4 separate regions of the Homo sapiens genome follow, and regions 2, 3 and 4 are each linked to region 1. Evidence: fine-mapped expression QTL. A gene starts in region 1. Each other region holds a variant in brackets. All regions are shown on one strand. Distances are from middle to middle.

The links. PIP is the estimated chance that this variant, and not a neighbour inherited with it, causes the effect.
Region 2: its variant is fine-mapped to the expression of HSPA4 in whole blood (INTERVAL, PIP above 0.99).
Region 3: its variant is fine-mapped to the expression of HSPA4 in monocytes after triphosphate RNA (Kim-Hellmuth 2017, PIP 0.95).
Region 4: its variant is fine-mapped to the expression of HSPA4 in whole blood (INTERVAL, PIP above 0.99).

What each region holds. Positions count from the first base shown.
Region 1 is chr5:133,048,054-133,056,269 of GRCh38, forward strand. It overlaps HSPA4 (heat shock protein family A (Hsp70) member 4), which reads left to right and starts at 3,960. Exons shown (of 19, transcript NM_002154.4): 1 at 3,960-4,304. The coding sequence starts at 4,198. RefSeq lists enhancers at 3,247-4,209, 3,396-3,445, 3,516-3,565, 3,756-3,935, 5,174-6,136.
Region 2 is chr5:133,069,270-133,077,269 of GRCh38, forward strand. HSPA4 (heat shock protein family A (Hsp70) member 4) reads left to right here. Exons shown (of 19, transcript NM_002154.4): 4 at 1,105-1,227; 5 at 3,961-4,060; 6 at 4,724-4,857; 7 at 7,385-7,629. Among named protein-coding and RNA genes, the nearest start is that of HSPA4, 21 kb to the left of the region's middle. The variant T/C (reference allele first, on the strand shown) is at 3,622.
Region 3 is chr5:132,512,645-132,520,860 of GRCh38, forward strand. No RefSeq gene overlaps it. Among named protein-coding and RNA genes, the nearest start is that of IRF1, 26 kb to the left of the region's middle. RefSeq lists an enhancer at 8,132-8,216. The variant C/CA (reference allele first, on the strand shown) is at 4,363.
Region 4 is chr5:133,088,094-133,096,093 of GRCh38, forward strand. It overlaps HSPA4 (heat shock protein family A (Hsp70) member 4), which reads left to right. Exons shown (of 19, transcript NM_002154.4): 9 at 311-462; 10 at 962-1,068; 11 at 1,469-1,602; 12 at 3,100-3,281; 13 at 4,607-4,696. Among named protein-coding and RNA genes, the nearest start is that of HSPA4, 40 kb to the left of the region's middle. The variant GTT/G (reference allele first, on the strand shown) is at 3,066.

The sequences.
Region 1 (8,216 bases):
GTCAAAACGGACCAGTCAGCTCTCTGTAAAATGGACCAATTGGCACTCTGTAAAATGGACCAATCAGCAGGATGTGGGTGGGGCCAGATAAAGGAATAAAAGCAGGCTGCGTGCCCCCCACCTTCCCCAACAACCAGCAGCGCAACCTGGTCAGGTCCCCTTCCACACTGTGAAAGTTTTGTTCTTTTGCTCTTCACAATAGATCTTGCTGCTGCTCACTCTTTGAGACTGCGCTGCCTTTAAAAGCTATAACACTCACTGCAAAGTTCTACAGCTTCACTCCCGAAGTCAGCGTAGAACACGAACCCACCAGAAGGAAGAAACTTCAGACACGTCCGAACAGCAGAAGGAACAAACTCTGGACACACCATCTTTAAGAAATGTAACACCGCGAGGGTCTGCAGCTTCATTCTTGAAGTTAGGGAGACCAAGAACCTACCAATTCTGGACACACTGGGATTACAGGCATGAGCCACTGTGCCTGGCTAAGAGATCCTCATTTTTACAAAAAAATGAAAAAATGAGTTGTATGTGGCAGCACATGCCTGTAGTCCTAGCTACTCAGGAGGCTGAGGTGGGAGGATTGTTTGAGCCCAGGCTGCAGTGAGCTATGAACGTGACACTGCACTCCAGTCTGGGTGACAGAAAGCGATCATCTAAAAGAAGAAATAGAGAAGCAGTGTAGTTGTGAGAAAATTGTGTGACCTTGAACAAGTACCTTAACCTTATCAGGTCTCTATAAAATAGGAAAAATATCACCTACCTGATGGGCTTGCTATGACGAGTAAAGGAATTATATTGGTATCAATACAGTGTCTGGCGTAATGCTAGCATATGCTGTAGGAATGCCAGAGACATGGTAATTACCATTATTATTGAGTTATTGGAGTTTTGGTGTTTAAGAAAGGGTTGTTGCTTTGACTAAAAGCATTGCTCCACTCACTGTAAGATCAGGGAAGTCAGAAAATCACCATTATCTGAGCAGGTAGTTTCCTTGTGAAGCAAAAAATTGCAGAAGCTGCTCCAGAGCGTAGGGCAGGATTCCACTGGACACTTGTCAGGGAGAAATATGAGTCCCCAGCTGATGGAGAACCTTTTGTCTTTTGTTGGGCAGCCTATGAACACTGTATATTTAAAAACAAACACTTCTGTGATTGCTTAGGACTAAATTTAATCGTTGTATTTGAGAGTGGCATTTAACAACTTCCTGCTTTTAAAATACTTAAATACCTAAGATACTCTGCCAAATGGAAAGAATTTGTTCTCCGAACACAGTGCCTCCAACATTAAATATTCTGGACACTTCGTTGGTTCGCAACTGTGATACTTGGAAACTTGCCACGTTAGATTCTTCAGGATTCTAAAATAACCTTTTCCTGACTTCATTTATTTAAATATCCCAGAATAATCTCTTAAGCTATAAGTTTGATGATCCAGGAAACTATTTATAGGAGGATGAGTACTCTCTGTGACTGATGGTAGTTATGTTTTATTTTGAGAAGGACAAATCATTAAAAAGATTGATAGGGCTGGTGGTATTTTAAACTGAAAGCAGTACCAAGGCAAACAAGGCAGTTGAGGTATGAAGTTGGAACATAATAAGATATGGGTGTAATTTTCATCAACTTAGCTAAGACCTAGGGAGGTCTTCCAATAGAAGGAAGGCAGAAACAGGCAGTAACACAGACAGTGATCTTTTAGGTCCACTGGACACTTTAGCTTAGGCAGCTCGGGTTGTTTGCTCAGTGATTAACAACTGAGATAAACAGATGGAGACAGGACTCTGTCATAATTAAGGTCAACAGTGTGCTTGGTATTATTGATATTGCCCCTAGGTAGGAGAAAAACAGAGGAAGGAAGGTCAAGGTCAACCTAACTTAAAAAAACTTTAAAAAATTGTGGTGAAATATACATAAAATTTACCATTTTCATCATTTTTAAATGTACAAATCTGTCACTGATCATGCACATTGTTATGCAACTACCACCAGCATCTATCTCCAGAACTTTCTCATCTTCCCAAACTGAAACTCTGTATCCCTTAACTCTCCATTTCACTCTACTTGTGAAACCGCTTTTCTGTCTTTATGTAGTTTATTGTAGGTGCCTGATACAAGTGGAATCATATTAAATTTTGAATATAAAATTAAAAATTAAAAAAAATTAATTTTGATTTGTTTGGCTTTCCACTTAGCGTATTTTCAAGGTTCATTCATGCTGTAGCATTTATCAGACTTTCATTCCTTTGTCTTTTCAAAGCTGTATAATGTACTGTTACGCGTATACACTAAATTTAGAAAACTCATTCATCTGTCAATGGACATGTGGATTGTTTCCTCCTTTTAGCTACCGTGAATAAACTACTATGAACATGGGTATACAATGTACAAATATGTCCCTGCTCTCGTTTTTCCAAAGGCTGTTCCTGGCTGCCTCTACTCTTTTTATTCCCAGTACCCTTTTACAGGTAGCACCTGGTACTTGTCTTTGAAGAATTAACAGGTTTTAGTTAGGCAAAATGTGAGAACAGTGTGGCCATTTGCAAGTTTTAATGGTAATCAACCCGGGTTTGGGGTTGCTCCTATAGAGTGAAGTACCTCCGGAGGTGGCAGGAAATGCAGGTATTTAAAGGGAAGGGCATACCAGGGCAATGTAATTTCTTCTTTGCTCATTCACTTTTAAAATGGCTGAAGGGCAGGTACTCTAGCCTTGAGACCTTCAACTCATGATGTACCCTCCAGCAACGGAGAATTTCTTTTTAGTCCTTAAACTATGGTCTCTATTGCTAGTTTTCCAAACTTGAACACAGCCTTTTCCTTTTCTGGGAAGTTGTCCTAGTCTCCACCATTCTGTGCATATAGCACTCGCCATTCTGTACTGGGGTCACCTTTACTTGTTTAGCCACCCTCATGATGGGGATGATCCAGGTTTTGCAGAGGTGAAACTTATATACCATTGGGGGGCCCTACAAATACACAAAACAAATAATTAAAACGACAAATCACAACACATTACTAGAGACTTGGAGATTCAGATTCTCCTTAGATCTCTCTGGGTAATTTATTAGAAATGCTTACATAGATTTGCTTCCTAATCTCAAGCTGGCTTCCCCTCTCCACAACTCAGCAACTATCTATTCTCCCAGGAGGCCATACAAGCGAGGGGCCCTGAAGCTTAACATTTATTAACTTCATGTAAAGGTCTGAGCGGACCTTTCAGGCCAGGCAGCGTGTCACTTGCCTGTGTTCCTTGTTAGGGCCTACCACCGGGTAGGTGCTTGGAATGTGCTGTGGATTAAAGGCTTAAATCCTGCGGGCCCCTCAATCTGATCTAAGGACATGAGTGGCTTAGAGAACGGCGCAACAAGGCTAAGCGAAAGAAAACAAAGCGGTGTGGCTGGGAGTGGGCTCCTTCCCTCCGCTGGTGAGGGTGCGATCTTAGACTCTTGAGAGAACCCGACATAAAGGCCGCGTTCCAATGGCGGCCTTCTCCCCTACCGGCCAACCTGCCCCGAAAAGAGCAGAAGGCACCCTGCGGGATCTGCAGATCAGCTTGCGTCTCATTCTGGGGCACCGACACGGTGGAATGCAAGACACCCCACTACCGGAAGTTTCTTTGATGTTAAGAAAAACGGCGGAAGTAGGCCGCAGCGCTTCCTCAGTATAGTGCCTCGAGCTGGCTCGCCTACTTTCTACGGTAAAGGGAGGTGCTCCACATCTCTATGCAGCTGTGCAGCGCCGCAGGTTCCATGCGCAGGCTCGGTTGGCTAAATGCGCTTTCCAGCCATCTTTCAGCCACCCAGTCCTTTCCCAGGTTCTCGAGCCAGGACGTGACGTATTCAGACGTACTGGGGGCGGGGCCTCAAGGGGAAAAGCGCCTGAGCCGGGATATCGCGAGAACATCCCGTTCTTTCGTAGCTCTGGTGCTGCGGCTCCGCTCTCGTCGCAACGAGATCTTTCGAGATCTTCTCCGCCCCCGCTACCGGCGCCTCCTCTGCGGCCACTGAGCCGGAGCCGGCCTGAGCAGCGCTCTCGGTTGCAGTACCCACTGGAAGGACTTAGGCGCTCGCGTGGACACCGCAAGCCCCTCAGTAGCCTCGGCCCAAGAGGCCTGCTTTCCACTCGCTAGCCCCGCCGGGGGTCCGTGTCCTGTCTCGGTGGCCGGACCCGGGCCCGAGCCCGAGCAGTAGCCGGCGCCATGTCGGTGGTGGGCATAGACCTGGGCTTCCAGAGCTGCTACGTCGCTGTGGCCCGCGCCGGCGGCATCGAGACTATCGCTAATGAGTATAGCGACCGCTGCACGCCGTAAGTGTGGGCCGGGCCTGCCGCGTGCACTGGGGTTAGGAGATAATGCTTGTTCCAGTCTGGGACCCTCGCTGCTTGGGGAACGCGGGCCGAGGAGTCGCCTCCGTTCCGAGCCGAGGTCCCGGTAGGTCAGGGACCCCCAGTAGGTATTAGGACACTAGGGGCCGCGGCCCACTATGAGCGTGGGTGTGTGCTAAGCGCGAGGGCCTTTTCCCCGGTGGCCCGTCGGCCGAAGAAAGGCTTCTGGCCGGTACTCGGACCAGCGGAGGGCACGGGTAGGAACTGGAAGGACTGCAGGCCTAGGATGTAAACGGATCGCGGTCCTTTTCTTGAGGGCAGAGACCAGGCCCAGGTCGTACTGAGTCTTTTGAGTCCAACAGAAAGCTCAGAACTTTGCACACAGCAGGCGCTTAATAATAGTTGAATCGAACGGGTTCTGGGGCTTGCCAGCCGCGAGACCGTGGAGCGGTCAGCGTCCCACGTGAGTGGGGGCGGGGCAGCGCCCGGAAGAGAGCGAGCTGGAGCAGCCTCAGGCACGGGTTCCGGATGGACTCGGGGTCTTGAGATTGGGTTGGCACGGATAGGAATTTAATAAAATCGGTGCTCTTATGATAACTTTGCAATCGCTTTTGTTTTCCACATTATTTCGGGATATTGTGCTATATTGGGTCACTCTCTGTTTTGTGCGCGTTAACCCCTCAATAGGGTTGCACTTTAACGATAATGCATTCTAACCAGTGTGTTGGCCACAATTGTTAGTGGCTCAAGGGCCCGCCTTGACTTCTAGAACCCATAGTAAGTTTTGGGACCAGCATAGACACAGTTCTAAAAAATGGTGGGTCACTCAGGTCTTTCACTGGTTACAGTGTCTGCCTTTTGAATACTTGTAGATACATTTTAATCCGTTGTCGTGTTCTTAGACAAAATCTTGTAAGAAGTTCTGTATTATTTGCCATTCAGGGTCTCTCTTCTTTTTTTTTTTTTTTTTTTCTTTTTTGAGACAGACAGGGTCTCACTCTGGCTGCCCAGGCTGGAGTGCAGTGGTGCGATCTTGGTTCACTGCAGCCTCGACCTCCCTGGCTCCTGGCTCAGGTGATTCTCCCACCTCAGCCTCCTGAGTAGCTGGCGTTGCAGGCGTGCGCCACCATGCTTGGCTAATTTTATTTATTTTTAGTAGAAATCGGGTTTCACTATGTCACTCAGGATGGTCTCGAACTTCTGGACTCAAGCAGTCCTCCAGCCTCGGCCTTCTGGAGTACTGGGCTTACAGGCATGAACCACCGTGCCCTGCCCAGGGGCTCACTTGTTATTGATTGATTGAGATGGAGTCTCGCTCTGTCGCCCCAGGCTGGAGTGCAGTGGCATGCTCTCGGCTCATTGCAACCTCGGCCTCTGGGGTTCATGCGATTCTCCTGCCTCAGTCTCCTGAGGAGCTGGGATTACAGGCGCGTGCTACCATGCCCGGCTAAATTTTGTATTTTTAGTAGAGACGGGGTGTTGTCGAGTTGCCCAGGCTGGTCTCGAACTCCTGACCTCAAGTGATCCTCCCGCCTCGGCCTCCCAAAGTGCTAGGATTACAGGCGTGAGTCACGGTGCCCGGCCCCAGGGGCTCAATTCTAAGGTCCATTATTTTCACCCTCAATTTTTGTCACATTTCTTCAGCAGGTTTCAGCGAAACTAGATTGTTCAGAAGTCTCACATTTCCTTTCCACTTGTCAAATTTCCGCACCCCCCACCTCCTAACCCAGGTGCTTCCCCTGAAAACTCATCCCAGAAGCCAAAACGGTAGTTTGCTGTCCCTTTGCTGAGTTTAGTCTTGTTAACAGCCCTATTAAGGTTTATTTATTTATTTATTTATTTTGAGAAAAGGAGTCTTACTCTGTTCCCTACGCTGGAGTGCAGTGGCGTAATCTCGGCTCACTGCAGCCTCCGCCTCCTGGGTTCAAGCGATTCTCCTGCGTCAGCCTCCCGAGTAGCTGGGATTACAGGTGTGCGCCACCACGCCTGGCTAATTTTTGTCTTTTTTAGTAGAGACAGGGTTTCACCATGTTGGCCAGGGTGGGCTCGAACTCTTGACCTCAAGTGATCTGCCTGCCTCGGCTTTCCAAAGTGCTGGGTTTACAGGAGTGAGCCACCGCACCTGGCACAGCTTTATTAAGGTTTAATTCATATACTATACAATTTAACCAGATGAAGTGATCGTTTTTAGTGTAGTCACAAAACAGTGCAACCATTACTGTAATCAATTTTAGAACATTTTTATCACTCCCCCAAAGCCCTGTGCCCTTTAGCAGTTTATTTTCCCTATTTGTACTTTTTAACAATGGGTAGTCTAACTTGGCATCTCCAGGGAAGTGTATTGTGCCCTGAAGTTTTTTTTTAAGCATTAAAGTTTGTTTTTAAGCATTTTAGTATTTGAGAATATCTTTGTATCCGTGTTTTCTTGGTCTATAAAATGTCTCCCCTAAGGAACTGAAAAGGCTAAAGCGCTGAGTTAATGTATTTAGTGTTTTGGTCCTTTCCTGCCCTGTGATTGAACACGCTTTAGTTCCAAAGGGCGCACAGGAAGAGAATCCCAAGTATGGGGAAGAACAGTGTTCCTATCCTTTCTTTTAGATTATTATCACATGCTCCTGTTTTTCTTTTAGAAAGACAATAGCTACAACAATTATACCATGAATTCTATTTGAAACTGAGTTGTTGCAGATAAAAAATTTGCCTCAAAGACATTGTGATATATATGACCCCATACACCACGGAATTGTGATAAGAAAATTCCATTTAAATAATTTTCCTTACATGTTTTCTTTATATTTTCCTTCATAGTTTTCATTAACTTACAGGCATGCCATACATTTCAAGTGATTTCTGAACTGTATGATTTTGATTCACTTTGATTACTCTGTTTTGGAGTCTTGGGCTAAATAGAAAATGGTAGCAGGAAGGTTGATTTTTTTTTTTTTTTTTTTTTTTTTTTTTTTGGTAGCGGTTATGGAGGAATGGATTTGGAGCTCATATGTAAAAAAGACTGCATGTTGTGGGTTTGTTTTAACATGAGAGTGGAAATGAGATGCAAGTCTTAGAGGGTTTATGATGGTGGAAGTACCTCGTTTCAGATATGGGTGTAACAATCTGGATTAGGTTTTTGAGGAGCCAGTGGAGTCTCATCCAGAAGAGACCCTTGATTTTCCACCCAATTTAGGCTTCCTTCATTTTATCAGATGTTGAGTGCCTCTGATGTGGTAGCCATTTTTCTAAGCACTGGAGGTACTGTGGTGAACAAATAAGGTCATGCCATTATGGACATGGCTGGTGGATTAAACCAAATACTAAACAAAAATATGTAGTAATTACTAACTGTGGTAAAGGGCAAGGTGGAAAAGTACAGAATACAGTGAGAGTATAGAATAAGCGGGTCTAATTTAAATTGGATGGAAGGACCTGGCACGATAGCTCATGCCTGTAATCCCAGCACTCTGGGAGGCTGAGGTAGGAGGATCGCTTGAGGTCAGGAGTTCGCAACCAGCCTGGCCAACATGCTGGAACCCTGTCTCTACTAAAAATACAAAAATTAGCTGGGTGTGGTGGCGGGCGCCTGTGGTCCCAGCTACTCTGGAGGCTGAGGCAGAAGAATCGCTTGAACCTGGTAGGTGGAGGTTGCAGTGAACCGAGATCATGCACTGCACTCCAACCTAGGTGACAGAGCGAGACTCTGTCTCAAAAATAAGTTGGGTAGAAGGTGCTTTGAAAGAAGTACCATCTGAGACCTGAGGATGAGTAGGATTTTACCTTGGAGGTCACAGTAGGTTTGAGGAAGAGTTGTTCCAGGCAGAAGGAACAGCAAGTGGGAAAGACCTGAGCAAGAAGAGCTGCATCCTTGATACATTGAAGAGCAGCCACGACTCTTTCAGC
Region 2 (8,000 bases), 21 kb after region 1:
GAGACAATATCACTGTGTCACCTAGGCTGGAGTGCAGTGGCACGATGTAGGTTTACTGCAACCTCTGCCTCCTGGGTTCAAGCAATTCTCATGCTTCAGTCTCCCTAGTAGCTGGGATTACAGGCATGGACCATCATGCCCAGCTAATTTTTTGTGTTTTTAGTAGAGATGGGGTTTCACCATTTTGGTCACGCTGGTCTTGAACTCCTAACCTCAAGTGATTTGCCCGCCTCAGCCTCCCAAAATGCTGGGACTACAGGTGTGAGCCACTGCACCTAGCCCATCTTTTATTATTTAATTCAACCAGTATATATTGTGCCAGGTCCTGTTCTAGGTGCTGGAGCTATGGCAGTGAACAATCAGACAAATGCATGTCCTCATATTAGATTGAATCCTAATTGTGGAGATGGATAATAAACAGTAAACACATTAAAATACACATAGTATGTCAGATAGTAAAATAGTTTCTACCAGCAGCCTCTTTATGGAGGGACAGTGTGGGTCATGGTGAGCTACACTGATTTGTCTTTGCAAAGGAAGTTGTCTTAAGATTTGTTGTTTTACACTGTGGTCCTTCATCTCCAAGTATCGTGTTTGGTTGAAAGCTAAAATAGGCTATGCGTGGTGGCTCATGCCTGTAATCCCAGCACTTTGGGAGGCCGAGGCAGGAGGATTCCTTGAAGCCAGGAGTTTTGAGACCAGCATCGGCAACAAAGCAAGAACCCTGTCTCTGCAAGAAAAAAATAAATTAGCTAGGTATGGTGACATGTGCTTTTGCTCCCCGCTACTTGGGAGGCTGAGGCAGGAGGATTGCTTAAACCCAGGAGGTTAAGTCTCCAGTGAGCTGTGATCATGCCACGGCGCTCCAGAGAGAGAGAATGACAGAGAGAGAGACCCTGCCTCCAAAATAATAATAATAATAAAAAAAGAAGCTAAAAGTGACCTTCAAGGTATTACTTCGAAAACTAGCTTTTTTTTTTTTTCAATCCCCTCTTGAGATAATGTTGCATTGATAATGGGAAGCATTGTTCATTTTAGCTTTTAGGACTAGGACATGAAGAAAGAAATATAATAAGTCTAGGCCCCTTTGTTGTTTTCTTGCAGGTGACATATATGGAGGAAGAGCGAAATTTTACCACTGAGCAAGTGACTGCCATGCTTTTGTCCAAACTGAAGGAGACAGCCGAAAGTGTTCTTAAGAAGCCTGTAGTTGACTGTGTTGTTTCGGTGAGTTTGATCCCTATACATTATTGGGAATTTGCATGAAGAAGCAGAGAGAAGAAAGCTGCTAATTTCAAGTAAACTTGTTTTTTTGTCTCAGGTTGTAATGGTTATTTAAAATGTTTGTCAGGCCGGGTGCAGTGGCTCACGCCTGTAATCCCAGCACTTTGGGAGGCCAAGGTGGGTGGATCACCTGAGGTCAGGAGTTCGAGACCAGCCTGGCCAACATGGTAAAACCCCGTCTCTACTAAAAATACAAAAATTAGTTGGGCGTGGTGATGGGCACCTGTAATCCCAGCTATTCGGGAGGCTGAGGCAGGAGAATCACTTCAACCCGGGAGGCTGAGGTTGCGGTGAGCCGAGATCATGCCATTGCACTTCGGCCTGGGTGACAAGAGCAAAACTCTGTTTCAAAGAAAAAAAAAATTTATGAAACTAGTCTTCATTTTCTTACTCTCTTCTGCTGCTTAGCTTTTGCTCAGGCCTCCTTTGTTATTCTGCCTATTTAAATCTCTTCTGTTTTTCAAGGTGCATTCATCTCAGCCTGCCCACTTCTTCCTGTATTTTTTTCATCGCCTAGCATAGCACAGGGTAGCCACTCATTTGTTGAATTAGTTGGATACCCCTAATTGTAAATGGCACTTGTTCTGTATTTGTATTTGCTGTTGGTATCTAGCGTTAAAGACAAAGGCAAGGACTGGGCATGGTGGTTTAATCCCAGCACTGTGGGAGGCCAGGGCAGGAAGATTGTTTGAGACCAGCCTGGGCAACACAATGAGATCCCTGTCTTTACCAAAAAAAAAAAAAAAAAAAAAAAAAAATTAGCTGGGCATGGTGGCACACACCTGTAGTCCCAGCTACTTGGGAGGCTCATTCGAGCCCAGGAGTTTGAGGCTGCAGTGAGCTGTGATCACACCACTGCATTCTAGCCTGGACAACAGACTGAGACCCTGTCTCAAAAAACTTATCCAAAAAACAAAGACATGGCAGCAGTTGACTTTATCTTTTGCATATCCCTGTTAAGATGGAAGCCTGGCTACTGTAGTTTTGTGCTTTAGTTTGGTGGAATCCTTAGGGACTGTTGAAATATGTGTGGTTACATTGGCTTTGCCACCGAATCTCCTCATTCTGTAATTGTTACCTGATACTTTAGTTTCATGGCCTCTTTTGTCTTAATGTTGGTGCATTGATTGGCAAAGCAAGGACTGTTAGGTGGCTTTTTCACCCCAGAGTCTGTTGCCTGGCGGATTTCTTGGTCCTTGGTTATTGTAAAGTAGAATTGACATTTGTCAGAAAGAATTGGATTATAGTTGTGTACACCATTCTGGGGGTGGGCTTTATTCTTTATAGAAGAATGAAAATTCTGTGTTCCTTTAAAAAGCTCAGATTCAGTGACCTTGATTCCCCAGTGGCTGATACACCAGATCCTGTATTTCTTAGATGTTTCCTACCTTTCCTCAGCTCTTCCATTGGTCTCCCAGATTTGTTTCCATTCCTCCATCTAGTGCCCCTAGCTTTGATCCTGCATAACACTCTGTGTGGGAGTAAAATTTATGTAAAATATTGGAATGCGTAAGTGTCTTCCAGTTTTGGGTATCAAGTTAAAAGGTGATAGTGTTGAGTCATGTTTGGGTGGGGCCTCAAGATCACACTGGAGTTTTGGTAATTTGCTTAGGAGGGTTCACGGGCCCTAGCGTATAGCTATTCTCATGCTAAGATTTATTGTAGTGAAGGGATACAAAGCAAAATCAACAAAGGGAAAAGGCACATGAGGCAGAGTCTGGAGGAAACCAGGCACAAGCTTCCCAGAGTCAGCCTGTGCTTAACTCCAGCAACAGGTTGTAACAATACGGGTGAAATGTCCTCTACCACAGGAGTTCTGCCTAGCCTGGTCCAGGGTTGTTTTTTTTTTTTTTTTTTTTTTTGGAGACTGAGTTTCGCTCTTGTTTCCCAGCTGGGAGTGCAGTGGCATGATCTTGGCTCACTGCAGCTTCCACCTCCCAGGTTCAAGCCTCAACCTTTGGAGTAGCTGGGATTACAGGCATGTGCCACCACACCCAGCTAGTGGTTTATTTTTTTTTTTTTTTTGTATTTTTTGTAGAGATGGGGTTTCACCATGTTGGCCAGGCTGGTCTCAAACTCGTGACATCAGGTGATCCACCCACCACGGCCCCCCAAAGTGCTGGGATTACAGGCGTGAGCCACCACGCCTGGCTAGTCCATGGTTTTCATCAGGGGTCTGTCACATTGGTACCCTATACCTAGCATGAACCAAAATTCCAACTCCCAGAAGGAAAGCCGGTAGTCAGCACAAGCTGCATGTTTATATAAACAGTTTAGGTACAGTGAACCACTCTTAATCATTTAGGGAAATTTTTTCTATTGATTTAGTGAACTGTT[T/C]GCAAATCAAGGTCCTAGATGCCAGGCAAGGACCAACATGCAAGCAGGTGTTTTCTAAGGATAGCAGTTTCTGGCCTTTATATTAACTCTTCTCTGCAGTCACTACTTCAGCTGTTGGTATTTTGGTCTGCCATGTAATGAGTATATGTAAGGTAATGGTACGGCTATTTGTTTATCCTAACACTGCTTACTAAATATTCTAACTTTTCCCTACTAGTTTGAAATATTTTCTTGATCATATACAGAATAAATTGCTGTAGGTATTTGATGGTGTTCCTGGATTTTACTAACTAAAATTAGAATCTATAATACAGTAAGCATTCTTTTTTTTTTTTGTAGGTTCCTTGTTTCTATACTGATGCAGAAAGACGATCAGTGATGGATGCAACACAGATTGCTGGTCTTAATTGCTTGCGATTAATGAATGAAACCACTGCAGGTAAGGAGGACCGTTGATTATTTTTTTGACTTGGTTAATCTTGAAGATTGTGAAATTTTAAAACCCTGGGGTTTCTTGCTCTTTATTTTGCTTTCAGCACTGCTGCTCTTGCTTACCACTGTGGTCATGGTGTTTTTGGATACTGTGTCACTTGTGAAGAATTAATCTGACCAGTGCTTTTTGTGTACCTTTATAGCATGCATTTTGGTATTTAAACACATGCTTGTTGGGGAAGGAGAACACTTAGCGTGTGGAGCAGTGCTTTGGGTTAAAGACTGGTCTTCTCTTAGACTTGTGGACTGGTAGAGTCAGAGGAATGGGACATTAAGCAGCATCTCATGGACAGAACATGCGGGGATGTTAACATAGCATAGGGGTAGAAAAGATCCAGGAAAATATATTTGGAAAATGGGGGAAATGGCTTGGAGAAAATTATGCCAAAGTCCATTGGCAACTGTAAGGAAGTCTAAGTGAATATCAGTATTTAACTCTTGGAAGATAATCTTTTTCTTGAATAAATTATACAGTGCTTATAAAGAATTTGATTTCTAAAACATAACACATGTAGTTGCATTCGTTATATATAAAACCTCTTTTTTCCTGCTTAAATGAATTTTATTTACTTAGACGTTATTTTTAATTTTTGTGTTTTTTCTTCTGTAGTTGCTCTTGCATATGGAATCTATAAGCAGGATCTTCCTGCCTTAGAAGAGAAACCAAGAAATGTAGTTTTTGTAGACATGGGCCACTCTGCTTATCAAGTTTCTGTATGTGCATTTAATAGAGGAAAACTGAAAGTAAGTATATATTTTTTTTCCAGAAGACTGTTAGTAGTATGGTAATTATGAAATTTTGAGAGACAATGATTTTTTCTCATCTACAATATGGGAGAAACAATGCATACCTTACAGGGTTATTCAGAGGATTTTTTTTCTTTTCTTTCTTTTTTTTCTCTTTTTTTTTTTTGAGATAGAGTTTCGCTCTTGTTGCCCAGGCTGGAGTGCAATGGCGCGATCTTGGCTCACCGCAACCTCCACCTCCCAGGTTCAAGCGATTCTCCTGCCTCAGCCTCCCTAGTAGCTGGGATTACGGGCATGTGCCACCACGCCCGGCTAATTTTGTATTTTTAGTAGAGACGGGGTTTATCCATGTTGGTCAGGCTGGTCTCGAACTCCCGACCTGAGGTGATCCACCTGCCTCGGCCTCCCAAAGTGCTGGCATTACAGGCGTGAGCCACGGCGCCCAGCAGGAGGATTTTTTAACATGTAGTTCCTTGGTGAATTTTACACTGGGGATTGAGAGGGTGGTACAGGTGCTCTGTACTCTTGCTCATGAGGTTTTGAGTGTTCTGGAAAAGGGGTTTCTTTTGGATGCCAAAACAAACTGGACTAGGAATTATAGATTTCTAGAAAGCCTAAAGTTTAAGCAGTTTTGTACACACAGAAGTATAGAAGGCAAGGAGGGGCCAGAGGGTGATTGATCTCTGTCATAGTTGAGTTTGCTGGTTTATGCTAGTTCCACAGTAGGGTATAAAATTCTCTGTCTAGATGATTTTATCTAGAATTTGGTGAAGAACCAAGGATTTCTCAAGTGTTTGCTTTAATTATTTGAATTGTATATTAAAATTGTTGGTGCCAAGGTCTGAATTGACTGCCTTGTACCCATTGGAGATTGGTGGAGAGGGATTACCCCAAACTAAATATTTGGTAATTTTGGAGGCATTTTGAGACTTCATTTGTTATGGTCTTGTTTCTTTGAAAAATAGACGTTTCCACTTTATTTTCTGGTTTTATATTGTTTCTAGGTGGTTTTGTTTTTAAATAAAAAGAAAGCGAGTCTTTTAGATAATTGGGAAATGAGAGATTTGTGATTTTGCTTTTTGACAGCTATAAATGGTGGACCAAATGTAATTCTCAGTGTTTAAACTTTAATCACTAATAGAATTTCTAAGATCTATGCTATGCTTTCATCTTTTTAAACGGAAGACTCTGGTTATAATTTAGCCTGGCTTTGGATCAGAACGATGTGTATTAGTAGCCATCTGCTTCTGTTTTTCTAAATTGTCCTTCTGTGTTACCTGTCACCTGTCAGTTTTGCAATCCTTTTGATTACTTTTAAATTATAAAAATATTCATTACAAAAATCTCCCCAAATTGGAAAACATTTATGTGTAAAGACAAGTCTGGGCAACATGGTAAAACCCTGTCTCTACAAAAGTTAGCTGGGTGTGGCGGTGTGCTTGTAGTCCTAGCTACTCTGGAGGCTGAGGTGGGGGGATTGCTTGAGCCCGGAGTTTGAGAACAGCCTGGGCAACATGGCAAAACCCCGTCTCTACAAAGAAAATACAAAAATTAGCTGGATGTGGTGATGTGTGCCTGTAGTCCTAGCTACTTGGGATGCTGGGGTGGCGGGATTGCTTGAGCCTGGATGGTCGAGGCTACAGTGAGCTGAGATTGTGCCACTGCACTCCAGCCTGGGCAACAGAGTGAGACCCTGTCTCAAAAAAAAGAAAAAAAAATAAAGAAAAGTTACTTACAATCTTACCATTCTTAACAGCTTGATGTATTTCATTCTAATTTTCTAAGAAAACAGAATTGGAGTCACTATATTTAGCTCTGTGTCCTGTCTTTTTTTAAGTTAACATACTAAGAAAATTTCCCCCATGACGTGTAGCATTCTTTGAAGAGATTGTTTTTACTGGTTTTATTCCTTCATAAGGATGTCATCACTTATTTAGCCTAACTTCTATTACTGAATCTAATTAGATCTAGTTTGCTTCTAATCTGTTAGAGATTTGAAAACGGGTAACCCAGGCTAATTAGACTTCCAGGTTAAATAGAAACACATTGCGGTGAGCTAAGGCTTTAAGGAATCCTTTGGTAGTAAACTGCAGAGAGTTGAGCCTTTGGTATTACTCAGTTTTGTGATACTGAGTAGACTAGAAGTATGTACATGACATGTTAGTATATTTTACCTTGGACATGTAACTGCTATTGGTTGTCAGACTGGTGTAGTGGGGAGGGCATGGACTTTGGAATTAAGGAGATTTGGCTTTGAATTCCACTTCTACCACTTAGTAGCTTTGTGAACTGCAGTTTATCTCATCTGTCTAGGTCTGTAGCATTATCTGTAAATTGGGGATTATAGTGCCTATTTTTACAGTGTGGGGTAATAAGGATTAAATGATGTATACATTGCTTTGTTTTAACCTTAATGTAACCCTCCCTCTTTTTTTTTAGATAAACAACTTACCAGGTAAATATATATCATCTGTTTCAAAATCGATTGGTTAATTGTTAGATTAATTCTCATTTTTTCCTTAAGGTTCTGGCCACTGCATTTGACACGACATTGGGAGGTAGAAAATTTGATGAAGTGTTAGTAAATCACTTCTGTGAAGAATTTGGGAAGAAATACAAGCTAGACATTAAGTCCAAAATCCGTGCATTATTACGACTCTCTCAGGAGTGTGAGAAACTCAAGAAATTGATGAGTGCAAATGCTTCAGATCTCCCTTTGAGCATTGAATGTTTTATGAATGATGTTGATGTATCTGGAACTATGAATAGGTAAGTATATTACTATTTCGATGTTAAAGTGAAGAGTGAGTTTTCTCCACATATATTAACCTTTAATTGGCTAATTGTTAAAATAATCACGGAGGTTATATGATAATTTTGGTTCTATTTTAAAAATTAGAAGCCATTCAGGACCCTGCTTTTTATGTAAAGTTGGGTCTGGTTAATAATGTAGACTAATGTTTTTGTTCTGATAAATTGAATATTCCAACATGTTGATAGTTCTTTACATATGCATTTGTTATACACGAGATTTCAGTTTCCAAAAAATCAGGGCAAAGGGCTGTAATGCAGAATTAAATTGAATTTAATTTACCCAGTGACTAAGAAATTGTAATTTTTTTTTTGAGATGGAGGTTTTT
Region 3 (8,216 bases), 540 kb before region 1:
CGTAGCTAGAACAACTAGACAAAAGGTAAACAAAGAAATAGAAGACTTGAACAACAATAAAAGCCACCAAACCTAACAGACATCTACAGAACATTTCATTCAATGACAGCAGAATACATATTATTCTTCTCTGCACATGGAAATATTCTATAGAAGAGACATTGTGTTAGGCCACAAAACAAGTCTCAATAAATTAGACAAGATTGAAATCAAACAGGGCCAGGTGTGGTGCCTCACACCTGGAATCCCAGCACTTTGGGAGGCCGAGACAGGCAGATCACCCGAGGTCAGGAGTTCGAGACCAGCCTGACCAACATGGTGAAACCCCACCTCTACTAAAAATACAAAATTAGCTGGGCGTAGTGGTGCATGCCTGTAATCCCAGCTACTCGAGGGGCTGAGGCAGGAGAATTGCTTGAACTCAGGAGGTGGAGGTTGCAGTGAGCCGAGATCACACCATTGCACTTCAGCCTGGGCAACAAGAGCGAAACTCCATCTCAAAAAAAAAAAAGAAAAAAAAGAAATCAAATAAAATATCTTCTCCTACGAAAAAGGAATGAAATTAGAAAGCAACAACAAAAAGAAATCTGGCAAATACACAAATATGTGGAAATTAAACAATGTACTTTTCAAGAACCCATAGGGCAAAGAAGAAATCAAAAGGGAAATTACAAAATATTTTAAGATGAATGAAAATGAAAATACAATGTACCCAAATTGATAGAATACAGTAAAAGCAGTGTTCAGAGGAAAATTTACACCTTTACAGTTACATTTTAAAAAAAGAAAGATCTCAAATTAATAACCTAACCTTCCATTTTAAGGTGCTAGAAAAAGAAGAGCAAACTAAACCTAAAGCAAGAAGAAGAGAGGAAATAATAAAAGTTAGCGCAGAGATAAACAAAATAGAGAATAGAACAACAATAGAAAAGTTAAAAACTGACAAGCCTATAGTTTGACTGACCAAAAGAGAAAGAGAGAGAAGACTCAAATTACTAAAATAAAAAATGAAAGTGGGGACATTACTACAGACCTTACCAACAAAAGATTATAAGAGAATACTATGAGCAATGTATGCCAAAAAATTAGATAACTTAGATAACATTGACAAATTCCTAGAAACACATAAACTACCAAAACTGACTCAAGAGAAAATAGAAAACTACAGACCAATATACTTTATGAACATAGATGAAAAAGTCCTTAATAAAATACTAGCAAACCAAATACAGCAACGTATTAAAAGGATTATATTCCATGACAAAGTGGGATTTCTCCCAGGAACGTAACAGTTATTAAACATACAAAAATTAATCTGTGGGGGGAGGAGCCAAGATGGCCGAATAGGAACAGCTCCAGTCTACAGCTCCCAGCGTGAGCGACGCAGAAGACGGGTGATTTCTGCATTTCCATCTGAGGTACCGGGTTCATCTCACTAGGGAGTGCCAGACAGTGGGCGCAGGCCAGTGTGTGCATGCACCGTGCGCGAGCCGAAGCAGGGCGAGGCATTGCCTCACCTGGGAAGCACAAGGGGTCAGGGAGTTCCCTTTCCGAGTCAAAGAAAGGGGTGACGAACGCACCTGGAAAATCGGGTCACTCCCACCCGAATATTGCGCTTTTCAGACCGGCTTAAAAAACGGTGCACCACGAGACTATATCCCACACCTGGCTGAGAGGGTCCTACGCCCACGGAATCTCGCTGATTGCTGGCACAGCAGTCTGAGATTAAACTGCAAGGCGGCAACGAGGCTGGGGGAGGGGCGCCCACCATTGCCCAGGCTTGCTTAGGTAAACAAAGCAGCCGGGAAGCTCGAACTGGGTGGAGCCCACCACAGCTCAAGGAGGCCTGCCTGCCTCTGTAGGCTCCACCTCTAGGGGCAGGGCACAGACAAACAAAAAGACAGCAGTAACCTCTGCAGACTTAAGTGTCCCTGTCTGACAGCTTTGAAGAGAGCAGTGGTTCTCCCAGCACGCAGCTGGAGATCTGAGAACGGGCAGACTGCCTCCTCAAGTGGGTCCCTGACCCCTGACCCCCGAGCAGCCTAACTGGGAGGCACCCCCCAGCAGGGGCACACTGACACCTCACACGGCAGGGTATTCCAACAGACCTGCAGCTGAGGGTCCTGTCTGTTAGAAGGAAAACTAACAACCAGAAAGGACATCTACACCGAAAACCCATCTGTACATCACCATCATCAAAGACCAAAAGTAGATAAAACCACAAAGATGGGGAAAAAACAGAACAGAAAAACTGGAAACTCTAAAACGCAGAGCGCCTCTCCTCCTCCAAAGGAACGCAGTTCCTCACCAGCAACGGAACAAAGCTGGATGGAGAATGATTTTGACGAGCTGAGAGAAGAAGGCTTCAGATGATCAAATTACTCTGAGCTACGGGAGGACATTCAAACCAAAGGCAAAGAAGTTGAAAACTTTGAAAAAAATTTAGAAGAATGTATAACTAGAATAACCAATACAGAGAAGTGCTTAAAGGAGCTGATGGAGCTGAAAACCAAGGCTCGAGAACTACGTGAAGAATGCAGAAGCCTCAGGAGCCAATGCGATCAACTGGAAGAAAGGGTATCAGCGATGGAAGATGAAATGAATGAAATGAAGCGAGAAGGGAAGTTTAGAGAAAAAATAATAAAAAGAAATGAGCAAAGCCTCCAAGAAATATGGGACTATGTGAAAAGACCAAATCTACGTCTGATTGGTGTACCTGAAAGTGATGTGGAGAATGGAACCAAGTTGGAAAACACTCTGCAGGATATTATCCAGGAGAACTTCCCCAATCTAGCAAGGCAGGCCAACGTTCAGATTCAGGAAATACAGAGAACGCCACAAAGATACTCCTCGAGAAGAGCAACTCCAAGACACATAATTGTCAGATTCACCAAAGTTGAAATGAAGGAAAAAATGTTAAGGGCAGCCAGAGAGAAAGGTCGGGTTACCCTCAAAGGAAAGCCCATCAGACTAACAGCGGATCTCTTGGCAGAAACTCTACAAGCCAGAAGAGAGTGGGGGCCAATATTCAACATTCTTAAAGAAAAGAATTTTCAACCCAGAATTTCATATCCAGCCAAACTAAGCTTCATAAGTGAAGGAGAAATAAAATACTTTATAGACAAGCAAATGCTGAGAGATTTTGTCACCACCAGGCCTGCCCTAAAAGAGCTCCTGAAGGAAGCGCTAAACATGGAAAGGAACAACCGGTACCAGCCGCTGCAAAATCATGCCAAAATGTAAAGACCATCGAGACTAGGAAGAAACTGCATCAACTAACGAGCAAAAGCACCAGCTAACATCATAATGACAGGATCAAATTCACACATAACAATATTAACTTTAAATATAAATGGACTAAATTCTGCAATTAAAAGACACAGACTGGCAAGTTGGATAAAGAGTCAAGACCCATCAGTGTGCTGTATTCAGGAAACCCATCTCACGTGCAGAGACACACATAGGCTCAAAATAAAAGGATGGAGGAAGATCTACCAAGCCAATGGAAAACAAAAAAAGGCAGGGGTTGCAATCCTAGTCTCTGATAAAACAGACTTTAAACCAACAAAGATCAAAAGAGACAAAGAAGGCCATTACATAATGGTAAAGGGATCAATTCAACAAGAAGAGCTAACTATCCTAAATATTTATGCACCGAATACAGGAGCACCCAGATTCATAAAGCAAGTCCTGAGTGACCTACAAAGAGACTTAGACTCCCACACATTAATAATGGGAGACTTTAACACCCCACTGTCAACATTAGACAGATCAACGAGACAGAAAGTCAACAAGGATACCCAGGAATTGAACTCAGCTCTGCACCAAGCAGACCTAATAGACATCTACAGAACTCTCCACCCCAAATCAACAGAATATACATTTTTTTCAACACCACACCACACCTATTCCAAAATTGACCACATAGTTGGAAGTAAAGCTCTCCTCAGCAAATGTAAAAGAACAGAAATTATAACAAACTATCTCTCAGACCACAGTGCAATCAAACTAGAACTCAGGATTAAGAATCTCACTCAAAGCCGCTCAACTACATGGAAACTGAACAACCTGCTCCTGAATGACTACTGGGTACATAACGAAATGAAGGCAGAAATAAAGATGTTCTTTGAAACCAACGAGAACAAAGACACCACATACCAGAATCTCTGGGACGCATTCAAAGCAGTGTGTAGAGGGAAATTTATAGCACTAAATGCCTATAAGAGAAAGCAGGAAAGATCCAAAATTGACACCCTAACATCACAATTAAAAGAACTAGAAAAGCAAGAGCAAACACATTCAAAAGCTAGCAGAAGGCAAGAAATAACTAAAATCAGAGCAGAACTGAAGGAAAGAGAGACA[C/CA]AAAAAACCCTTCAAAAAATCAATGAATCCAGGAGCTGGTTTTTTGAAAGGATCAACAAAATTGATAGACCGCTAGCAAGACTAATAAAGAAAAAAAGAGAGAAGAATCAAATAGACACAATAAAAAATGATAAAGGGGATATCACCACCAATCCCACAGAAATACAAACTACCATCAGAGAATACTACAAACACCTCTACGCAAATAAACTAGAAAATCTAGAAGAAATGGATACATTCCTCGACACATACACTCTCCCAAGACTAAACCAGGAAGAAGTTGAATCTCTGAATAGACCAATAACAGGATCTGAAATTGTGGCAATAATCAATAGTTTACCAACCAAAAAGAGTCCAGGACCAGATGGATTCACAGCTGAATTCTACCAGAGGTACAAGGAGGAGCTGGTACCATTCCTTCTGAAACTATTCCAATCAATAGAAAAAGAAGGAATCCTCCCTAACTCATTTTATGAGGCCAGCATCATTCTGATACCAAAGCCGGGCAGAGACACAACCAAAAAAGAGAATTTTAGACCAATATCCTTGATGAATATTGATGCAAAAATCCTCAATAAAATACTGGCAAATCGAATCCAGCAGCACATCAAAAAGCTTATCCACCATGATCAAGTGGGCTTCATCCCTGGGATGCAAGGCTGGTTCAATATACGCAAATCAATAAATGTAATCCAGCATATAAACAGAGCCAAAGACAAAAACCACATGATTATCTCAATAGATGCAGAAAAAGCCTTTGACAAAATTCAACAACCCTTCATGCTAAAAACTCTCAATAAATTAGGTATTGATGGGACGTATTTCAAAATAATAAGAGCTATCTATGACAAACCCACAGCCAATATCATACTGAATGGGCAAAAACTGGAAGCATTCCCTTTGAAAACTGGCACAAGACAGGGATGCCCTCTCTCACCGCTCCTATTCAACATAGTGTTGGAAGTTCTGGCCAGGGCAATCAGGCAGGAGAAGGAAATAAAGGGTATTCAATTAGGAAAAGAGGAAGTCAAATTGTCCCTGTTTGCAGACGACATGATTGTTTATCTAGAAAACCCCATCGTCTCAGCCCAAAATCTCCTTAAGCTGATAAGCAACTTCAGCAAAGTCTCAGGATACAAAATCAATGTACAAAAATCACAAGCATTCTTATACACCAACAACAGACAAACAGAGAGCCAAATCATGAGTGAACTCCCATTCACAATTGCTTCAAAGAGAATAAAATACCTAGGAATCCAACTTACAAGGGATGTGAAGGACCTCTTCAAGGAGAACTACAAACCACTGCTCAAGGAAATAAAAGAGGACACAAACAAATGGAAGAACATTCCATGCTCCTGGGTAGGAAGAATCAATATCGTGAAAATGGCCATACTGCCCAAGGTAATTTACAGATTCAATGCCATCCCCATCAAGCTACCAATGACTTTCTTCACAGAATTGGAAAAAACTACTTTAAAGTTCATATGGAACCAAAAAAGAGCCCGCATCGCCAAGTCAATCCTAAGCCAAAAGAACAAAGCTGGAGGCATCACACTACCTGACTTCAAACTATACTACAAGGCTACAGTAACCAAAACAGCATGGTACTGGTACCAAAACAGAGATATAGATCAATGGAACAGAACAGAGCCCTCAGAAATAATGCCGCATATCTACAACTATCTGATCTTTGACAAACCTGAGAAAAACAAGCAATGGGGAAAGGATTCCCTATTTAATAAATGGTGCTGGGAAAACTGGCTAGCCATATGTAGAAAGCTGAAACTGGATCCCTTCCTTACACCTTATACAAAAATCAATTCAAGATGGATTAAAGATTTAAACATTAGACCTAAAACCATAAAAACCCTAGAAGAAAACCTAGGCATTACCATTCAGGACATAGGCGTGGGCAAGGACTTCATGTCCAAAACACCAAAAGCAATGGTAACAAAAGCCAAAATTGACAAATGGGATCTAATTAAACTAAAGAGCTTCTGCACAGCAAAAGAAACTACCATCAGAGTGAACAGGCAACCTACAACATGGGAGAAAATTTTCGCAACCTACTCATCTGACAAAGGGCTAATATCCAGAATCTACAATGAACTCAAACAAATTTACAAGAAAAAAACAAACAACCCCATCAAAAAGTGGGCAAAGGACATGAACAGACACTTCTCAAAAGAAGACATTTATGCAGCCAAAAAACACATGAAAAAATGCTCATCATCACTGGCCATCAGAGAAATGCAAATCAAAACCACTATGAGATATCATCTCACACCAGTTAGAATGGCAATCATTAAAAAGTCAGGAAACAACAGGTGCTGGAGAGGATGTGGAGAAATAGGAACACTTTTACACTGTTGGTGGGACTGTAAACTAGTTCAACCATTGTGGAAGTCAGTGTGGCGATTCCTCAGGGATCTAGAACTAGAAATACCATTTGACCCAGCCATCCCATTACTGGGTATATACCCAAATGACTATAAATCATGCTGCTATAAAGACACATGCACACGTATGTTTATTGCGGCATTATTCACAATAGCAAAGACTTGGAACCAACCCAAATGTCCAACAACGATAGACTGGATTAAGAAAATGTGGCACATATACACCATGGAATACTATGCAGCCATAAAAAATGATGAGTTCGTGTCCTTTGTAGGGACATGGATGAAATTGGAAACCATCATTCTCAGTAAACTATCGCAAGAACAAAAAACCAAACACCGCATATTCTCACTCATAGGTGGGAATTGAACAATGAGATCACATGGACACAGGAAGGGGAATATCACACTCTGGGGACTGTGGTGGGGTCGGGGGATGGGGGAGGGATAGCATTGGGAGATATACCTAATGCTAGATGACGAGTTAGTGGGTGCAGCGCACCAGCATGGCACATGTATACATATGTAACTAACCTGCACAATGTGCACATGTACCCTAAAACTTAAAGTATAATAATAATAAAAAAAAAATTAATCTGTGTAATCCACCATGCTAAATGTATGAAGAGGAAAAATCTCTTTAGCTTTGACTGATGCAGATATCAATGCAGAAAACACATTTGACAGAATCCAATTATTGGGTATAATCTTTTTAAATGCTCAATAAACTACAAATAGAAGGGAACTCTTCAACCTGATCAAAGATAAGATTTACACCATTATAAAAGAGCAAGTTTGGGCTCCTTTTGCCTCTTTGCCCTTCCACCTTCTGTGACATGATGATGTAGCAGGTGCCTTACTGGCACCTTGATCTTGGACTTCCCAGCCTCCAGAACTATGGGAAAATAAATTTCCATTCACTATAAATTACCCAGTCTCAGGTATGCTGTTATAGCAGCACAAAACAGACTAAGATATATTCCTTATTGAACAGAAATGCAAAATCCTCAATAAGACATTAGTAAATTAAATCCAGGAACATATATAAAGGAGCATACACCATGACCAAATGGGATTATCCCAGGAATTTAAAGAAATTTAATACCCCATGCTAATAGAACAGAATAAAGGACAAAAACCATATGATTGGGCTGGGCATAGTGGTTCAAGCTTGTAAACTCAGCATTTTGGGAGGTTGAAGTGGGTGGATCACCTGAGGTCAGGAGTTCAAGACCAGCCTGACCAACATGGTGAAACCCCATTTCTACTAAAAATACAAAATTAGCTGGGCATGGTGGCACATGCCTGTAATCCCAGCTACTCGGGAGGCTGAGGGAGGAGAATCTCTTGAAGCCAGGAGGCAGAGGTTGCAGTTAGCCCAGATCACACCATTGCACTCCAGCCTAGGCAACAAGAGTGAAACTCCGTCTTAAAAAAAAAAAAAAATCATCT
Region 4 (8,000 bases), 40 kb after region 1:
TTTTAACACTTGTTTGTGTGAGATTGTGTGAGAAATTCAGGACCTGTACACTGCAGTACATTTGAGGATTCCTGGCCCTCACCTCCTAAATCCCACTAGCTACCCTTCCCCCATTATTTTGAGAATTAAAACACCTACTTGTTTCCAGATGCCACCTGCCTCTGTGAGTGTGGGCATGAGTATGTGTGTGTTGCGGAGGTGGGTGAGGGAGTTGGAGGAGTTTTGTTACACATCTGAGTTATTTCATCATGGTAAGATGTTATTGTTCTTTCATTTCATTAAAAAAATCTGTCTAATTCTTTAAAAATAGAGTTAAAGAAAGAAGATATTTATGCAGTGGAGATAGTTGGTGGTGCTACACGAATCCCTGCGGTAAAAGAGAAGATCAGCAAATTTTTCGGTAAAGAACTTAGTACAACATTAAATGCTGATGAAGCTGTCACTCGAGGCTGTGCATTGCAGGTGAATATTCTTTCTTTTATAGGTAACCATTTATAAATCATTGTAACAAGATGGCAGTGGTTTATGTATCTAATAACCTGGGATTAGCTCAGGGTGACTTCAGGGTGTTGAGATTCCAAAACCTTTGTTTTAAAATAGAGGTGATGTTCCTAAAAATAATTGTACTCTATAGCACATAAGATGAATTAATTGACTAGAAACATAGGTAACTCTGAGCCTGAAGTATGACTGGAAGTTTGGCCTGTTATGTATGTCTGTATGAAATAGTGTACATTAATTAAATAAGGGTTGGGGTTAATAGAAAAATAAGGAATAGCTAGATTATATAGGTAATTGACATGATAGAAGTTTGTAAAACTGTTCAGACACCATTAAATTACTAATATAAATATTTTAAAAAGACCATTGATTTTCTGAAGTAATTTGTATGTTTAAGTGATATTATCAGTTTATATTGTCTATACTTGTTAAACGGAATTTTTGAAAATTATTATTCTAGTGTGCCATCTTATCGCCTGCTTTCAAAGTCAGAGAATTTTCTATCACTGATGTAGTACCATATCCAATATCTCTGAGATGGAATTCTCCAGCTGAAGAAGGGTCAAGGTATCATGTTTATTAATCATTTACATATCTAAAGTTAATTGACTATTAGGTCTGAGTAATATGTTGCTTTTCATTTCAGTTTACATAAATCTGTAACATTTTATCATAGTGCATGAAGGAAGTGGTCATTTATTTTAGTCAGAATAAATTTGTGTCCTTAATTAGTTTCTCACACTTGATTCTGCTGAAATCATCAGTGCCTTTTATGTGCAGATTGACGTATATTCCTTTTTTACTGACTTTATATATAAAGATTCTTGGGAACTCTTATAATCTGGAAATAATACCAATTGAAAAGAGAGAGAAACTAACACTGTACAATAATTACAAACCTAGAACACATGGGTAAAAGTGTTAGGAATATCCTGAATTTGTGTTTTTGTCTTTTTCCTCCATTCAGTGACTGTGAAGTCTTTTCCAAAAATCATGCTGCTCCTTTCTCTAAAGTTCTTACATTTTATAGAAAGGAACCTTTCACTCTTGAGGCCTACTACAGCTCTCCTCAGGATTTGCCCTATCCAGATCCTGCTATAGGTAAGTAAAGAGTTGGAAATTAAAAAAGAAAAAAAAAAAAAAGCACAGTGGCTCACAACTGTAATCCCAACACTTTGAAAGGCTAAGGTGGGAGGATCACTTGAGCTGAGGAGTTCGAGATCAGCCTGGGCAACATAGTGGGACCCTGTCTCCATTTAAACAACAACAAAAAAAAGCTTATCTACTTGGAGAGTTCGCATAGTAGAAAGAACAAGTATGGTATTCTGAAATTTAGGGGCTTTAGATTGCAAAAGAAAACCTCTTCCAGTCTCGTTAGCAGGTTTAGAACCAGCCAAATGGCTGTTATTTAATTGGATCTCCCATTGTATCGGCAGTTTTTCTTGGTTAGCGCACATTGTAATTATAACTTATGTATAAGGTGGTGCTATATACTATAAGGAGTTAACGAAATTCAGTTTGGACCCTAACATACAGTTATAAGATGTATATAGAAAATAGCCAGGTGCGGTGGCTCACGCCTGTAATCCCAGCACTTTGGGAGGCCAAGGCGGGCAGGTCAGGAGATCGAGACCATCCTGGCTAACATGGTGAAACCCCGTCTCTACTAAAAAAATACAAAAAAAAATTAGCCAGGTGTGGTGGCGGGCGCCTGTAATCCCAGCTACTTGGGAGGCTGAGGCAGGAGACTGGCGTGAACTCGGTAGGCAGAGCTTGCAGTGAGCTGAGATCACGCCACTGCACTCCAGCCTAGGCGACAGAGCGAGACTCTGTCTCAAAAAAAAAAAAAAAAAAAAAAAAAGGATGTATATAGAAAATCATTAGGAGATGGTGATACAATATCAAAACATACTAGGTTTCAGAACCGTGTTATCTAGAGTAGTTATAGACTCTGGGAAACTCTTATCTGGAAATAATACTAGTTGAGAAGAGATAGAAACTAGTTATAGTATAAAGACCTAGAATATATGGGTAAAGAAATTAGGAGTATCCTGAATGGCATTTAGAAGCTGTGGAAAGTTAACCTATTCTTTTTTCCCCATCTGTAAATCTGTAAAACCAGGAATAACAATGATAATTCATACTTTGCAGAGTTCTGGGAATGAAGAAAATGTAAATAAAAACCTTGTACAGTCACTGGACCTAGAAATGGCAATTTACTGATAAACGACAAGCAGAGTGGAATCATTTTTTTTTTCTGTTTTGTTTTTTGAGTAGAGAATGTGACAAATCTGTTTTAGGAATTAATCTGAAAGTAGCATATAAAGATAAATGGAAATAAGAAATTGGAAGAAAGGAAAGAATCGGGAGATATTTGAGTTCTTAATTGGGGCAGGATAAGATAATAAGAGACTGTGAAAGAAGAAAGAGAAATCTGATGATTTAATAAGATTCTAAAAGGACCGATTTTGCTTATTTTAAGCATCATGTTACTGAGCTATCATTGAAAGTAGACATAATCTAGCAATGTAGGCATATATTCATGCTTGAATTCATCCTCTTAG[GTT/G]ATGTGTTCTTTTGTCTCTCGTATGTCCCTAGCTCAGTTTTCAGTTCAGAAAGTCACTCCTCAGTCTGATGGCTCCAGTTCAAAAGTGAAAGTCAAAGTTCGAGTAAATGTCCATGGCATTTTCAGTGTGTCCAGTGCATCTTTAGTGGAGGTTCACAAGTCTGAGGAAAATGAGGAGCCAATGGAAACAGATCAGAATGCAAAGGAGGAAGAGGTAATCTAGACATTGTATACCACTTGTGATGGCCCAGAGGTGACTTGTCTAGAAATTGTAGCAAGCAGACTTGGTGGCAAGGCCGGAGCATTGTGACAGAGCTGCTGAGTGAGAGTGGGTTTGTATGTTTGCCCTTCCCCCAATATAAGTGAACCAGCAGTAGATTTTTATGCAGAATTTGTATAGAAGTGGAACACAAGTTGATTTCTTCTTTCAGATCATACACTTCTCAACTTGAGTTATTCCTGATTCTGGTTGTTGAAGAGTGCTCTGAGTCTCAGTTAATTATTTTCAAAAGTAGAATTGATTGTACACTCATTTGTTGGAATTATGCACTGGGTCTTGTCTTCATTGTGCATCAGAATCAAAGCTTTACAAAACTACAAATTACCTATGATTCCAGCACTTTGGGAGGCTGAGGCAGGAAGATTGCTTGAGCCCAGAAGTTTGAGGCCAGCCTGGGCAACAAAGTGAGACCCTCATCTCTACAAAAAGTTAAAAACAACAACAACAACAACAAAAAAACTAGCCAGGTGTGGTGGCACACACCTGTGGTCCCACCTGCATGGGAGGCTGAGGCAGGAGGATTGCGTGAGCCTAGGAGGTCAAGGCTGCAGTGAGTCCTGTTTGCGCCACTGCACTCTAGCCTATGTGTCAGAGTGTGACCCTGCCTCAAGGAAAACAAAACTACAAATGCTTGGGTTTCATCCCCACAGATTTTACTGAAGTTGGTCTGAGCTGAGGTAGCAGTAGTTTTAAAAGCCTCTCAGGTCATTCTAATATGTTGCAGGCATTGAGAAGCCACTGGTTCAGGCTCTCCACAAACCTTCTTTCATTGTTATTTTTAGGCTTTGTAATTTTAACGTGTTCGCCTCCCCGAGCACATGCAGTGGTCATACTTTTGAGGATGAAGAGAGGCTGACTTAGGAACTATTTGAAAAAGTTGGAACTTTTGAGAGAAAATACCTTTGAGGAAGCCTGGAGAAGCTTATGCTCTCTTCAGGTTGTATTTTGTAGATTGTATTAAATGATGCCACATTGTGAACTGTGAGTACTTAATGGTGTACAAAGCAGTTCCACAGTTATTCTTGTGTATGTAAGGGTAGGGCAGGGCGAGTGTTATCCTCATTGTACAGATGTATTAACTAAGATCCAGAGCGGAAAACTTCTGTGTCCTAGGTAATGTGGCCTACCTGGAATTTTAGCATAGGCCTTCTGATTGCTGGTAATTCAGCAGGAATTACATAACTATGTGACTTTGTCAATGTGTAATGAAGGTTGTTTAGTCTTCCTAATTGCAGGATTTAATTTGACCTGTTTTTCAGAAGATGCAAGTGGACCAGGAGGAACCACATGTTGAAGAGCAACAGCAGCAGACACCAGCAGAAAATAAGGCAGAGTCTGAAGAAATGGAGGTATGCATTGGGTGGTGTTTTTTTTTTTTTTTTTTTTTTTTTTTTTTTTGAGACAGAGTTTCAGTCTGTTGCCCAGGCTGGAGTGCAGTGACATGATCTCGGCTCGCTGCATCCTCCACCTCCTGGGTTCAAGTGATTCTCCTACCTCAGCCTGCTGAGTAGCTGGGATTACAGACGCCCACCACCACGGCAGCTATTTTTTTTTTTTTTTTGTATTTTTTAGTAGAGTTAGGGTTTCACTGTGTTGGCTAGGCAGGTCTCGAACTTCTGACCTCAGGTGATCCACCTGTCTTGTCCTCCCAAAGTGCTAGTATTACAGGCGTGAGCCACCACACCCGGCTGAGTTGTGTTTTAGAGTATGCACTGCAGTCTTTTTAAAGTACATGGTTTTGGCTGAGGGGCAGTGTCTTGAAAGATAGTTATACTAGAAACTCTTAATTTATTTGAACAATTTTTTTAGGAAGATTTTGTAGTGATTTGTAATGTGCTATTTGCAAGATGGCCTTTAAACTCTCTCCTGGTTGATACATGGGAAGAAAGCACTCAGGAATCCTAGTTTTACTAGGCTAGTGATTTATTTATGCTAGTTTCTGAATGGCTTATACTAAGTCTTTCTACCCATAATTTAATTCATTACTGATAAACAATAATGAAACTGAAAAAATTTTCAAAATCATCAATGATCCATGCCTTTTACTTTTTAATCTTTTTATTTTTTTGAGATGGACTCTAGCTCTGTCGCCCAGGCTGGAGTACAGTGGCATGATCTCGGCTCACTGCAGCCCCCGCCTTCCAGGTTCAAGCGATTCTTATGCCTCAGCCTCCTGGGTAGCTGGGACTACAGGCGTGCACCATCACGCCCGGATAATTTCTGTATTTTTAGTAGAGACAGGGTTTCTCCATGTTGGCCAGGCTGGTGTTGAACTCCTGACCTCAAGTGATCCTCCCACTTCAGCACCCTGGGATTACAGGCATGAGCCACTGCGCCCAGCCAAAATAACAACTTTTAATAAAAAGGCATGGGGCCTGGTTCAGTGGTTCATGCTTGTAATCCCAGCACTTTGAGAGGCCGAGGTGGGTGGATCACTTGGGGTCAGGAGTGAGACCAGCCTGGCCAACATGGTGAAACCCCGTCTCTACTAAAAATACAAAATTTATCCCAGTGGGGTGGTACACGCTGGTAGCTCCAGCCACCCAGGAGGCTGAGGCATGAGAATTGTTTGAACCTGGGAGATGGAGGTTATGTGAGCTGAGATTGTGCCACTGCACTCCAATTTGGGCGACAGAGCAAGACTCCATCTTAAAAAGTTATTTTAAATAATGGAATAATGGATTTAAATATATTTTGTGATTAATGTAAATAATGTATTTATTTCAAAAAGAGTAGTAACATTTTTGAATCCTTTACAACCTATTCTTTAATTTTGAGTTGTCATGTTTAAATTTTTTTATCATTGAAAATATCTTTTATTTATAAAATTACAATGTATAATCTCACCATCTTAGGAGTTTCTAATTTTAAAAAGTTTCTAATTTTTACAAATTTCTAATTTAAAAGTGACATTTAAAAAAGTTGGACAGAACCTTAAAGTGGCTTAAGTCCGTTGTATATTTTCATGTCAATTAACAAAATTTAATTGCTTTTCTTTAGCTGTGCAAGTAATATTAAAAAGGAAAATGGACAGGAAATGGTGCTTACAGATTCTTTAGTTGGGTCAGGCCTTTTTCAAGATGGAAGACCCTTTATGTTGTTGGGTGGGATGGGGGCAGCAGTGGCAGAGACAAGGACTTGTTCTCCTATATGTTTGTGGAAGGTGGGTGAAGAGAAGGGAGAAGTGACGGCTGCTTCCCCAATGCCTTTGAGCTGTGGGAGGGGGTTTTAGAGGTATTAGTTATCTAGGCTTCCTTGGGATGGCTCAGAAACTAAAGTGCCTTTTGCATAGCATTGCTTCTAAAGGCAAATGAAATAGAAATGATAGATAAATTTCAGCAGCCGACTTAAGTTAGTTATAGGAGGTGGGAAATGACATTAAGGTTTTGCTTTATCATAGAACAAATTGAATTCCAGATGAATTCTAAAGTTGAAAGTTGAAAAAGCTTGAAGTGAATATTTTTCTAATCTGTGGATGAGGAAGGGCTTTCAGAGTATGAAAGCAACATAAGTAATCTCAAAGGAAAAGATGGATAGATTTGACAGTCAAAACTTATATGTAGACAAATAATACAGTTAGAAAAAACTAGAAGAGTCGCTGTGGCTCACACCTGTAATCCAGCACTTTGGGAGGCTGAGGCAGCGGATCACCTAAGGTCAGGAGTTCGAGACCAGCCTAGCCAACATGGTGAAACCCCATCTCTACTAAAAATACAAAAATTAGCTGGGCAGGAGCCTGTAATCCCAGCTACTCAGGAGGCTGAGGCAGGAGAATCTCTTGAACCTGAGAGGCAGAGGTTGCAGTGAGCTCAGATTGTGCCATTGCACTCCAGCCTGGGCTACAGAGCGAGACTCCATCTCAAAAAAACAAACAAAAAAAACTAGAAGAGTCAGTTGTTTGTGGGGGAAAGAAACACTGCAATCCTAAGAGAAGAGTGGATAAAATATTACTAGGCAGTTTGAGGAAATAGTTACATATGGCTTGTAAGTGTCTGAAAAAGGTTAAAAGAAACTCATACTGAATAACAGTGAGATGATGTTAAATGAATTCTCATTTGTGGACAGGGTGCAGTGGAATGAGTTTTTTCCTTGTGAGAATATAAATAGTTACAGACATTATAGAAATCAAATTACCAATATGTTACTACTGATCCATAGATATTTCATACCCTCCTCCTCACTAACTTCATTTGAATGTCTATATGTTTAAATAAAGGTAGAAAAATTTTTAATAGTAATTATATATTGATACGGGATTGTAGGAGATATGTATTTTATAAAATTTACCATCTTAACTGCTTTTAAGTGTACCATTCAGTAGTGTTAAGTAGATAGACATTGTGGTGTAACCAATCTTCAGAACTTCATCTTGAAAAACTGAAACTCTATACCCATTAAATAACTTTCCATTATTCCCCTCCCCCATCCCCTGACAGCCACTATTCTGCTTCCATTTTTATGAATTTGACTGCTCTAGATACCTCATTGTATTTACTTATTTTTTATTTTCTAGATGTTATGGTAGTCCTAAGTTACTTAGATCATCATCAAAAGAGAACGAAGTAAAAAAAGCAAAAACAGTTTTCCAACATGACTCATTTTGAAGTTTAAGGTAGTCTGTATATGTGTTTGTTCTTAATGATTTCTATTGTT